2 linked regions of the Homo sapiens genome follow. The protein of the gene in region 1 purifies or fractionates together with the protein of each later gene. This does not show direct contact. Each region holds a gene or a part of one and is shown on either strand. Other genes may lie near its edges.

The links.
Region 2: the proteins of SLC5A6 (region 1) and TMEM38B purify together in Homo sapiens (affinity purification with mass spectrometry; 2 studies listed by BioGRID and IntAct, with this or other methods). This does not show direct contact.

What each region holds. Positions count from the first base shown.
Region 1 is NC_000002.12:27,199,061-27,202,277, reverse strand, and holds the end of SLC5A6 (sodium-dependent multivitamin transporter), read left to right. Parts: intron 1-203; coding exon 204-290; intron 291-430; coding exon 431-612; intron 613-824; coding exon 825-928; intron 929-1,164; coding exon 1,165-1,280; intron 1,281-1,698; coding exon 1,699-1,842; coding exon of another isoform or gene 1,843-1,888; 3' UTR 1,889-2,691; downstream 2,692-3,217. UniProt on the Homo sapiens protein: Sodium-dependent multivitamin transporter that mediates the electrogenic transport of pantothenate, biotin, lipoate and iodide.
Region 2 is NC_000009.12:105,690,523-105,697,552, reverse strand, and holds the start of TMEM38B (trimeric intracellular cation channel type B), read right to left. Parts: upstream 3,013-7,030; 5' UTR 2,893-3,012; coding exon 2,781-2,892; intron 1-2,780. UniProt on the Homo sapiens protein: Intracellular monovalent cation channel required for maintenance of rapid intracellular calcium release. Acts as a potassium counter-ion channel that functions in synchronization with calcium release from intracellular stores.

The DNA.
Region 1 (3,217 bases):
CTCCCGCCTCGGCCTCCCAAACTGCTGGAATTACAGGCATGAGCCACCGCTCGGCCACCTCTGGAGTTCTGATTGTTCCCACAGAAGAGACAGATCTGACAAGTGGGGCTCCAAGGTCATGGCTGGTGGCTATGCTTTATGGTGAGTCTGGGCATCTCTGAGTCTGTGTTCTTTTTCCTTTTCTTCTCACCCTGTCCTCCTAGGCAGCAATCAGCATCTTTGGCATGGTTGGGGGACCGCTGCTGGGACTCTTCTGCCTTGGAATGTTCTTTCCATGTGCTAACCCTCCTGTGAGTGATGCATCTGGATCCACAGTCATGTGTAGCAGGATGGACCTGGGGGTTGGCAGGGCTGTCACCAGGAGAGCTGAGGACTGCCGTGAGGGCTGGCAGGACTGGCCTTGTGACAGGCCTGCACTGTGTCTCGGCAGGGTGCTGTTGTGGGCCTGTTGGCTGGGCTCGTCATGGCCTTCTGGATTGGCATCGGGAGCATCGTGACCAGCATGGGCTCCAGCATGCCACCCTCTCCCTCTAATGGGTCCAGCTTCTCCCTGCCCACCAATCTAACCGTTGCCACTGTGACCACACTGATGCCCTTGACTACCTTCTCCAAGTAAGGCAGGGCTTGCTATCTTCTTGTTTTCTCAAAGCCCTCCTTTGAGGGCTTTCACAGGGGTCTTGCTAAGGGATGGGCCACCAGAGGCCCCAGGGAAATGTTGGGTATTGGGTCCCAAGACCCTGGGACCATGCGGGCAAGTAGAGATTGGTGCCCAAGGAATGCCCTGCCAACGAATTGCTAATTGTTCTCACCTCTGCTCTTCCCAGGCCCACAGGGCTGCAGCGGTTCTATTCCTTGTCTTACTTATGGTACAGTGCTCACAACTCCACCACAGTGATTGTGGTGGGCCTGATTGTCAGTCTACTCACTGGTAAGGGTGTGGGATTGCGGTGCAGATGAGCACCGAGGGGTTAACAGAGGGCCCTAAGGGACTCTAGGGAGAAAGGCTCCTGCCCTCTGAGCTCTTGGGTGTCCGTAGCTGTCAGGCTTTTCTGCTGGGATGTAGGAGGTGGGTGGGGGCTGGGGTCTCTGGGGGCCAAGGGAGGACATGGGGCCCGCTGCTGTGGATGGTTCCACCCAGAGACTCAGAAGCACATTTCCATTCAGGGAGAATGCGAGGCCGGTCCCTGAACCCTGCAACCATTTACCCAGTGTTGCCAAAGCTCCTGTCCCTCCTTCCGTTGTCCTGTCAGAAGCGGCTCCACTGCAGGAGCTACGGCCAGGTAGTACCTGCTGTCCAAGTGACCCCTCCCTGCCCTTCTCCACAGATGCCACTGACTCTTCAGGTTCCCTTCTACCCCTTTTCTCTCCCCCTGCCCCGGGTGCCTCTCTCAGGATCAGCTAAGCCTAGGCTGTCCCACACGGCTGTCTCAGGTTCTACCCACAGGACTGCACTGGCTTGGTGGGCAGAAGGATCTCAGGGCTCAGAGGAGCTCAGCCCCAGCCTGGGCCAGTCAGCTCCCCTCCCCAGCCCACCCTGTGCTCCCTGCTGTGCTATGCCCTCCCTCTTTTCCCCCTGCTCTCCCTCCCGAACCCAGCCTTGCTGGGCTCCCTTCTGGCGGGGACCTTTTTTGTGTGAATCCTGTCAAGCACCCGTCATCCGTCTTCACCAGTTCCACCCCTTTGGCTCTGTGTTTGCAGGACCACCTCGACACTGGCCTGTTTCCTGAGAAGCCGAGGAATGGTGTGCTGGGGGACAGCAGAGACAAGGAGGCCATGGCCCTGGATGGCACAGCCTATCAGGGGAGCAGCTCCACCTGCATCCTCCAGGAGACCTCCCTGTGATGTTGACTCAGGACCCCGCCTCTGTCCTCACTGTGCCAGGCCATAGCCAGAGGCCACCCTGTAGTACAGGGATGAGTCTTGGTGTGTTCTGCAGGGACAGGCCTGGATGATCTAGCTCATACCAAAGGACCTTGTTCTGAGAGGTTCTTGCCTGCAGGAGAAGCTGTCACATCTCAAGCATGTGAGGCACCGTTTTTCTCGTCGCTTGCCAATCTGTTTTTTAAAGGATCAGGCTCGTAGGGAGCAGGATCATGCCAGAAATAGGGATGGAAGTGCATCCTCTGGGAAAAAGATAATGGCTTCTGATTCAACATAGCCATAGTCCTTTGAAGTAAGTGGCTAGAAACAGCACTCTGGTTATAATTGCCCCAGGGCCTGATTCAGGACTGACTCTCCACCATAAAACTGGAAGCTGCTTCCCCTGTAGTCCCCATTTCAGTACCAGTTCTGCCAGCCACAGTGAGCCCCTATTATTACTTTCAGATTGTCTGTGACACTCAAGCCCCTCTCATTTTTATCTGTCTACCTCCATTCTGAAGAGGGAGGTTTTGGTGTCCCTGGTCCTCTGGGAATAGAAGATCCATTTGTCTTTGTGTAGAGCAAGCACGTTTTCCACCTCACTGTCTCCATCCTCCACCTCTGAGATGGACACTTAAGAGACGGGGCAAATGTGGATCCAAGAAACCAGGGCCATGACCGGGTCCACTGTGGAGCAGCCATCTATCTACCTGACTCCTGAGCCAGGCTGCCGTGGTGTCATTTCTGTCATCCGTGCTCTGTTTCCTTTTGGAGTTTCTTCTCCACATTATCTTTGTTCCTGGGGAATAAAAACTACCATTGGACCTAGAATTTGGGCTCCTGTACTGTCTTCACCTGCTCTTGTCCACCCTACTGCATCCTCTGGTGAGGATAAGGAGTCCTATCCTATGTACAGGTCACCTTCCTGTGCTGAGGAGGGGGGCTGTGGCTTCAAGTCCCTGCTGTCCCTGTGTCTGCAGGGGACAGTGTTGTGCTCACCATGGTAGAAGATGCACACCCTCTCCTAGGGCTTCTCATCCCCTGGGGCTTACTTAGTCTGTCCCTTCTCCGGCCCCACTTTCCCTTTGCCAGAACCTTTTGCTCTCAGATTTTTACTTTTGGAACTGGAGGAAGAATGTTCCCATCTGATTTTAGAAACGGAACATTCTAGCTGGACTTTTATGGTCTTGTGAAGAACACTGTGCTCACACCCTCCCACACCTGGCCTCTGCCCCTGCCTGGCCCTGTTCAGCTGCCCACATCAGCTCTGCACCAGCTCTCCGGGGTCTCTTAACAGAGACCGGGTCCCAGGCATATCTGAATTCAGCCTCAACTGAGGCCTTCTCCCAGGGCTTCT
Region 2 (7,030 bases), on another chromosome or scaffold:
AAATGACCAATAAGAGGCACAAACACATCAGTACCATGACAAACATAAATGAAAAATTGCTTTCTGATCATCAGAATGGCAAGATATTGAAGACCAATAATAGAACTGTCAAAGGAAATGGGCAGTCTAACACACTTCGGGTAAAAGGCTAAACAGGTACACTGTTCACTCTTGTGTCTGAATTCCATCATTTTTACCTCCTTACAAGTACTGGTACTGTATGATACTATATAAGTATTCAATAATCACGTGGTTCTCAAATTATGGAATCTCAGGAGCCCTCTACATCCCTAAAAATTAGTAAACAGATTAATGCTTGCCAAGGATAGGGGACAGCTTACACAAAAGTGCAGGAAGGAATTTAGGGTGGGTGAGGAAACCGTTCAGTATCTTGATTGTGATGGTAGTTGAATGACTGTATGTGTCTGTCCAAAAACACAGAACTTTTTATTAAAAATGGTGAACAGATTCTATGTGAATTACATCTTTTAAAAAATCGGACTTAAATTTCTTGACAACCCCAAAAGGTTTTGTTTATGTTGGCTACAAGTATCAATACTTAGCATCTTAGAAATTATAACTGAGAAAATTTTAAATAGTTGTGGCGGCTAAAGCAACTCCAACATCCGCCATGTTGACTTATGATTAACCCCAGTTCTGGGATTGCCTCTAAGATTTATATTTTATCTACTGTTCCTTGTGTAAAAGTATACACTTACCGATCTTGCCCTTAGGTCAAACAACCTTGACGCTATTTCACTTACCATAAATCCTGCTCTTAAGCAACTGTCCTACACATCTCTGGTTGGGGGTTGGGGGTCGGGTAATGGGGTGATCCACCATCTCCTTGGGGCCACCCAAGACATGGCTTCTGTTCTTAAGTCCCTTTTAAAGGTTTCTTTCTAAGAAACTGGATTCCTCAGCCTCTCAGCTTCCTCAGCCTTTGGGGATAGGACTGCATAGACCTGTCCACTATGCAACAATTGTTCTTCATGTTTTCATTTTTTAAAAAGTAAATGTATTAAATGTTAACATAAATAATGTATTCTTCAAGCCTGGCCAACATGGCGAAACCCCGTCTCCACTACTAAAAATACAAAAATTAGCCGAACTTGGTGGCAGGCGCCTCCCAGCTACTCCGGAGGCTGAGGCAGGAGAATCGCTTAAACCCAGGAGGCACAGGTTGCAGCACTGAGCCGAGATCGCGCCACTGCACTTCAGCCTGGGCGACAGAGAGACTCCGTCTCAAAAATAATAATAATAATAATGATAATGTATTCTTTATGAAAAATAACTTTTCCAAAACAAAAAACATTTAGTGAGAAGAATCACACTGTGTACATTCTAACAAATGTCTGGCTTCAAATAGAAAACTGTTAGATTCTCATATCTACTTCCTTCTGTTACAGTATCACAACTCAGGTAGCCTCTGGAAAACTCCACTGTACACTTCTGAAAAAATGAGAGTGAAAAAGATAACATCTGCATATTATTACGAAAGTAATTTTAAACTGGCAGTGTCAGAGAATCCCATGGGTCCCTGGACCACAATGTGAACATCTGATTCAGCCTATACAAAAAAAAATTTTTTTAATCAAATTCTGAACATGTAGTAGCAACAAAACTTACTTTTTTCAAATCAAAGAAATAATATCTTATGCAGATAATGTGTTCTACTTTAATGCAGTAATACCATCCTCATCCAGGTCAAAATTTGTACCAACGATTTAAACTGAGCTACAAACTTCAACATAAATGAAAAATATTTCTGAGGTCTAAGGATTTTTTAAAACCAGTAAGTAGTCCATAAGAAAGATACAGCATCATCCTCCAGACCTCACTCATCAACTATCCGTAGGGCAAGGCAGATGAAAGACAGCAAGAACACAAAGAAAGTAGGCAAAGAAATGTCTGACCTCAAAGAAAGAAGAGGTCCATACAACTAAAAGCACAGTAGAATAACTACAAAAGTAAAGCAGTATTAGAGCAAACGCACCCTGGTGTAAAATCCAATAAAATACAACTACTGTCCCTTGATCGCATTGCTAAAAGAACTCAAAATGCTGTTTCAAGACTATATCCCCATTCTGCAGATAGTGAAACTACGCCAGGTAACTCTTGCTTGTACAGTGTCCGTCGTGACTGTGAAAAGGGGAACGCACTCGCTTCTCACATGCTAGGCAGGGTGTTAGGACACTGCGTGAAGGGGAATCCTGGTCTGGCTACAGGAGGCTTTTTGTTTCAGTGCTTGTACAACTTTCATAACTGGAGAGTAGTCCGCAACCATCTATTACTCCAAGAGACTGAGTCAGAAACCTGCTGTCTCCTCACATGACTTTCAAACACTGCGAGCGAGTGGCGACACTGCGAGCGAGTGGCGACACTGCGAGCGAGTGGCGGTACCGCGAGGAGGCCGCCCAAGCCCTGGGCTGGCGCGGATATCTGTGGTTCCGAAACGCTGCGGCAGCTTCTGTCAGTCCTGGGACTTCTGCGGGCGGTTGGCAAGGTCGGCCCTGCTCGCCCAGGCTACGGCCTCGCGGACCCCAGGTCACGCCTCCTTTGAGGAGTACTAGAGCCTCCGTCCTCCCCCACGCTGTTTCCCCATCTGCACTCAGTAAGTCAGACCAACCGGCCCTTGGCGCCCCTCCAACTCTACCATCGAACTGTCTGGGCTAGCGGCCACTCAGCCGCCCACCCGACCCACCCGACCCACCCGACTTAGACGGTCCTCGCCGTCAGGAGCACTCTGAGGGGTCCGGCCCGCGGCGCCCCGCACTCACCCGGCTGACGTTTCACCGCCATCACTGACACTAGATAGTGCGCGATGTCAAAAAAGGGAAACATGGACGTGCGGGAGAAGGCCAGAGCCAACTCGTCCCATGGAGAATCCATAACGACCACCGACCGCGGCAACCGAAGCAGCCGCGGCTACTGGTTCCCCGCGCTCGCGCGGTGAGGAGTAGGAGAGGGCACAGCCGCGGCCGCCCGCTCCTCCGCGCCGGCTCCAGCTCCGCGCGTGCGCCCTGGCGCCGAGGGGGCGGGGCCGCGCTTCGCGGGAGCCGCAGGCTCACCGGCGCTAGGCGGGTGGGCGGGGCGAGCGGGTTCCCCGCGGCTCCAGCCGGCTCTTGCCTCGGTTCTCCTAGTAAGGGTCCAGCGTCTTCTTGGTCCTGGGCGCAGTGCAGGACCTGGAGAGCGTGCAGATGAACAAAACACGGTCCTCAAGGGGAGACGCTCAGAGTTGGATTTATTTCTGTAAATTGATGTCATTCACCTAACATTTATCGAGCAACCACAGTGCAAGTCACACTGTGACTTACTGGAGATATAAAAATAAAACAATAATATCCTGACCTCAAGAACTATGCGTTCCCTGAAAGAGATTTTTTATAAAAAGAGAAAAAACGCACATAATGGTACAAAAGCAGGTACTGAGAAGTATAGCTGCCGTGCGAGAGCAGTTCGAAACGAAGATTACAATTCTGGGAAGTGAGTAAAGTGACATGTGAGCTGGACTTTAAAAGTTAAGTGAGAAACACAAGCTAGGTGGGAGATGGAGGGAGGTGTTTTGGGTTGACTACAAAGTGAGAAATGAGGTTGGGAAAAGTCCTCGAATGGCAGACAAAGCCAGGCAGTTTGGCTCCAGAGGTTAAATTCTTGATCAATCACTATGTTAAGCTCAGAGCCAGAATCTCTTCTCCTAATCTCTACGCTAACTGGGTTGTTTGGTGGAAGGTGAGGGAGTAGAGGTGCAACGAAGCAACAAGATTAAGAATAGATTGATGAGAAGCGACTGACAACGGAAAATCAGAGGGTATTCACTGGTCCAAGCAAAAGGTAGTGGAGGCTGTGGCAGCAGAAATTGAGACCAATTGTGGGAAACATGGGTAGAAGCAGAATATCGTCAGTGAGTGTCAGTCTGTACAGGCGGGAAAGGAAGCATTTGTCAAATAAAATGAGGAACGGGTGAGTAGGAGGATTGTGGTTGCATTCTGATAAATAGGAAACAAGAAGGAATAGGTTTGGGTAAGAAAAAAAACTAGCTTGGCACACTTATTTGATGTGTGAACAGATTATGCTGGCACCAGGAAATTGGAGAAACGTGATTAGCTGCTAGGTAGGTGACAGCTTCACGGGTGTATGCACTGCAAAAGGAGAATTTTTTTTATCTGAATATGTATTCATTAATTTTAATTCATTTAACAAAATGTTTTTTGCGTGCCTACTATGTAACCAGCATTTTGCTGGATGTCAGAAATACTGCCCTAAACACTAAGTGTTTAAAACGTAGGAAAATTGTAGTAAATCTCTACACTTCATTACTTATCAAGAAAGAATAGACTTGTTCAAATACTTTTCACGTGTGGTTTTCTAAGCAAGCACTTCCCGTAGAGAAAAGTCTTTAGACCTGTAGCACACTTTCTAGCAAAACTAAGGGGAAAAAAACCACCTGTGAATATTTATACTTTCCTGTTTAAGTCTGTTCTTTCCATACTTTTTACACATTCGCTTATTTTTGGAATTTTAGTTTTGCGAATTTAGGCTCAGAGTTTGGATATTACTTCTTTTTTTTCTTTTCTTGTTTTTTTTTTTTTTTTTTTTTTTTTTTTTTGATATGTAATCTTGCTCTGTTGCCAGACGAGTGCAGTGGCGCGATCTCGGCTCACTGCAACCCCCAACTCGCTGATTCAAGCGATTCTCCTGCCTCAGCCTCCCGAGTAGCTGGGATTAAAGGCACGTGCCACCACGTTTTTTTTGTATTTTTAGTACAGACGGGGTTTCACCATGTTGGCCAGGATGGTTTGGAACTCCTGACCTCATGATCCGCCCGCCTTGGCCTCCCAAAGTGCTGGGATTACAGGCGTGAGCCACTCACACCCAGCCTGGATATTATTTCTTTAAATATTTTACATTTTAACAGTCTTAAATTTTGCAAAATATATGGTTAGTCTTTGGACTTAAAAAAATATATGATGTAATCTTTAAGACACTACTGAATTGTGTGTCTATACCAGTATTATTCTGGGGTACCATTAAATCCATTATTAACATCAATAAGGCAAAATGAATAACATCAGAGGTTTTTTTAAGGAAGTAAATCAAGCACTTTACTTGCTTAAACAGAATAATTCCAATAGAAAGGAATTAATTATCTCAGACTCTAAAGATAATTTGAAAATTGTTGCATTTCAAAACAGTAAGAATAAGCTTGGTCCTATCTGCCTAGAGCCTAAAGAAATTTCCTTATAAAGGTCTAGGGGAAATTAAATCCTAATCTCACAAAAAAGGCAAGTTCCATCTACATTTTAAATGCGCTCACCGTATTTGCTTCTGGTCAGTGGTTGAGTTATTTAGTCTATTAAAATGAGCATTGTAGGAGGAAATGGAGGATGGAAAGACCCCTTTCCTTCTTACCTTTAAATTACCATGCTATTGAACTTTTTAAAGTACCTTAGAGTCCACAATTAGGAAGTTTTACATTAAATGGACCAATTGCATTTTAATTACCAATTACCTTTAAATTGGTGAGAAGGAAAGGCAAGATTTGGGAGAATTACATGTGAAGATTCAAAGTTTTCCTGACTTTTGGAAGCAGTATACAAAATTACATAATTATTGGTGATAAAATGAATCCAATTTACAAAGTATAGCTTATTCATTAGGAAGCCAAACTGGTCTAATTGTATTAATATCCAAAAATGAGTTCTGTGGGGTGTTTTTTCGTTTTGTTTTGTTTGTTTGTTTGTTTGTTTACTTGAGACTGAGTTTCGCTCTTGTTGCCCAGGCTGGAGTGCAGTGGCACAATCATGGCTCACTGCAACCTCTACCTCCCAGGTTCAAGCAATTCTCCTGCCTCAGCCTCCCGAGTAGCTGGGATTACAGGTGCCTGCCACCACACCCAGCTAATTTTTTGTATTTTTAGTAGAGACGGGTTTTTACCATGTTGGCCAGGCTAGCCAGGCTGGTCGAACTCCTGAACTCAGGTGATCCACCTGCTCAGCCTCCCAAAGTGCTGGGATTACTGCGTAAGCCACCGCACCCGGCCTGAAGAAGAGTTTTGACTAAACCTGTTGGAGGCACTTTTTAGTTCAAAAATATGTGAATCTAATTTTTATAAACCAGGTTTTGCAGCACCAGCATGATTAACATTTGGGGCTAAACAATTCTTTGTCATGGTGGACTGTGCTTGCATTGTATGATGTTTAGCAGCATCACTGGTACTAGATGCCAGGACCATGCACACACGCACACACACACACACTCCACTTGCAACAACCAAAAATGTCTTGGCTTTGCCAAATGTCTTCTGGGGCAGGGGCAGGGGTTGGGGGACACAAGATCACCCCTGGTTCAGAACTACTGCTATAAATGAATAAATGCTTTCTTCAACAATATATGCCTCTATTAATACAAACAATATGGTCATGTCACTAATGTTCCTTATCTCTTTAATTCTAGAATAATTGTATAACCCTTCTTAGTTTCAGTTTACACATCCATCTTCCTGGGTCAAACTGACAATATCCTGAAACCCAGTATCATACACGCAATCCTAGCTGTTTCTTCCCTGCAATACTGCTTTCTACCCACTAAGTGGCATGCCTTTCACTTTGGGAAATCTATAATAATAACTTTTTATTTTATTTTTTTATTAATACATCATACTTGCACATATTTATGAGGTACATGTGATATTTTGATATGTGCACACAACGTGTTATAATCAAATCAAGGCATTTAGCCTATCCACCACCTCAAACATTTATCATTTCTTTGTGTTGGGAACATTTCAAATCATCTTTTTTGTTTTTCTCTCTTGAATCTTAAAGGTCTATCAATCAAATCATCTCATCTAGCCATTTTGAAATAAACAATATACTATCGTTAACTATAGTCACCCTACCACGCTATTGAACTTTTTAAGGTACCTTAGAGTCCCCGATTTGCAAGTTTCATATTAAAGGGACCAATTGCACTCCTAAACCTTAGTATCTTGGTCTGGCATTTTCATTCTAAAGTTGTTTTGATAAGC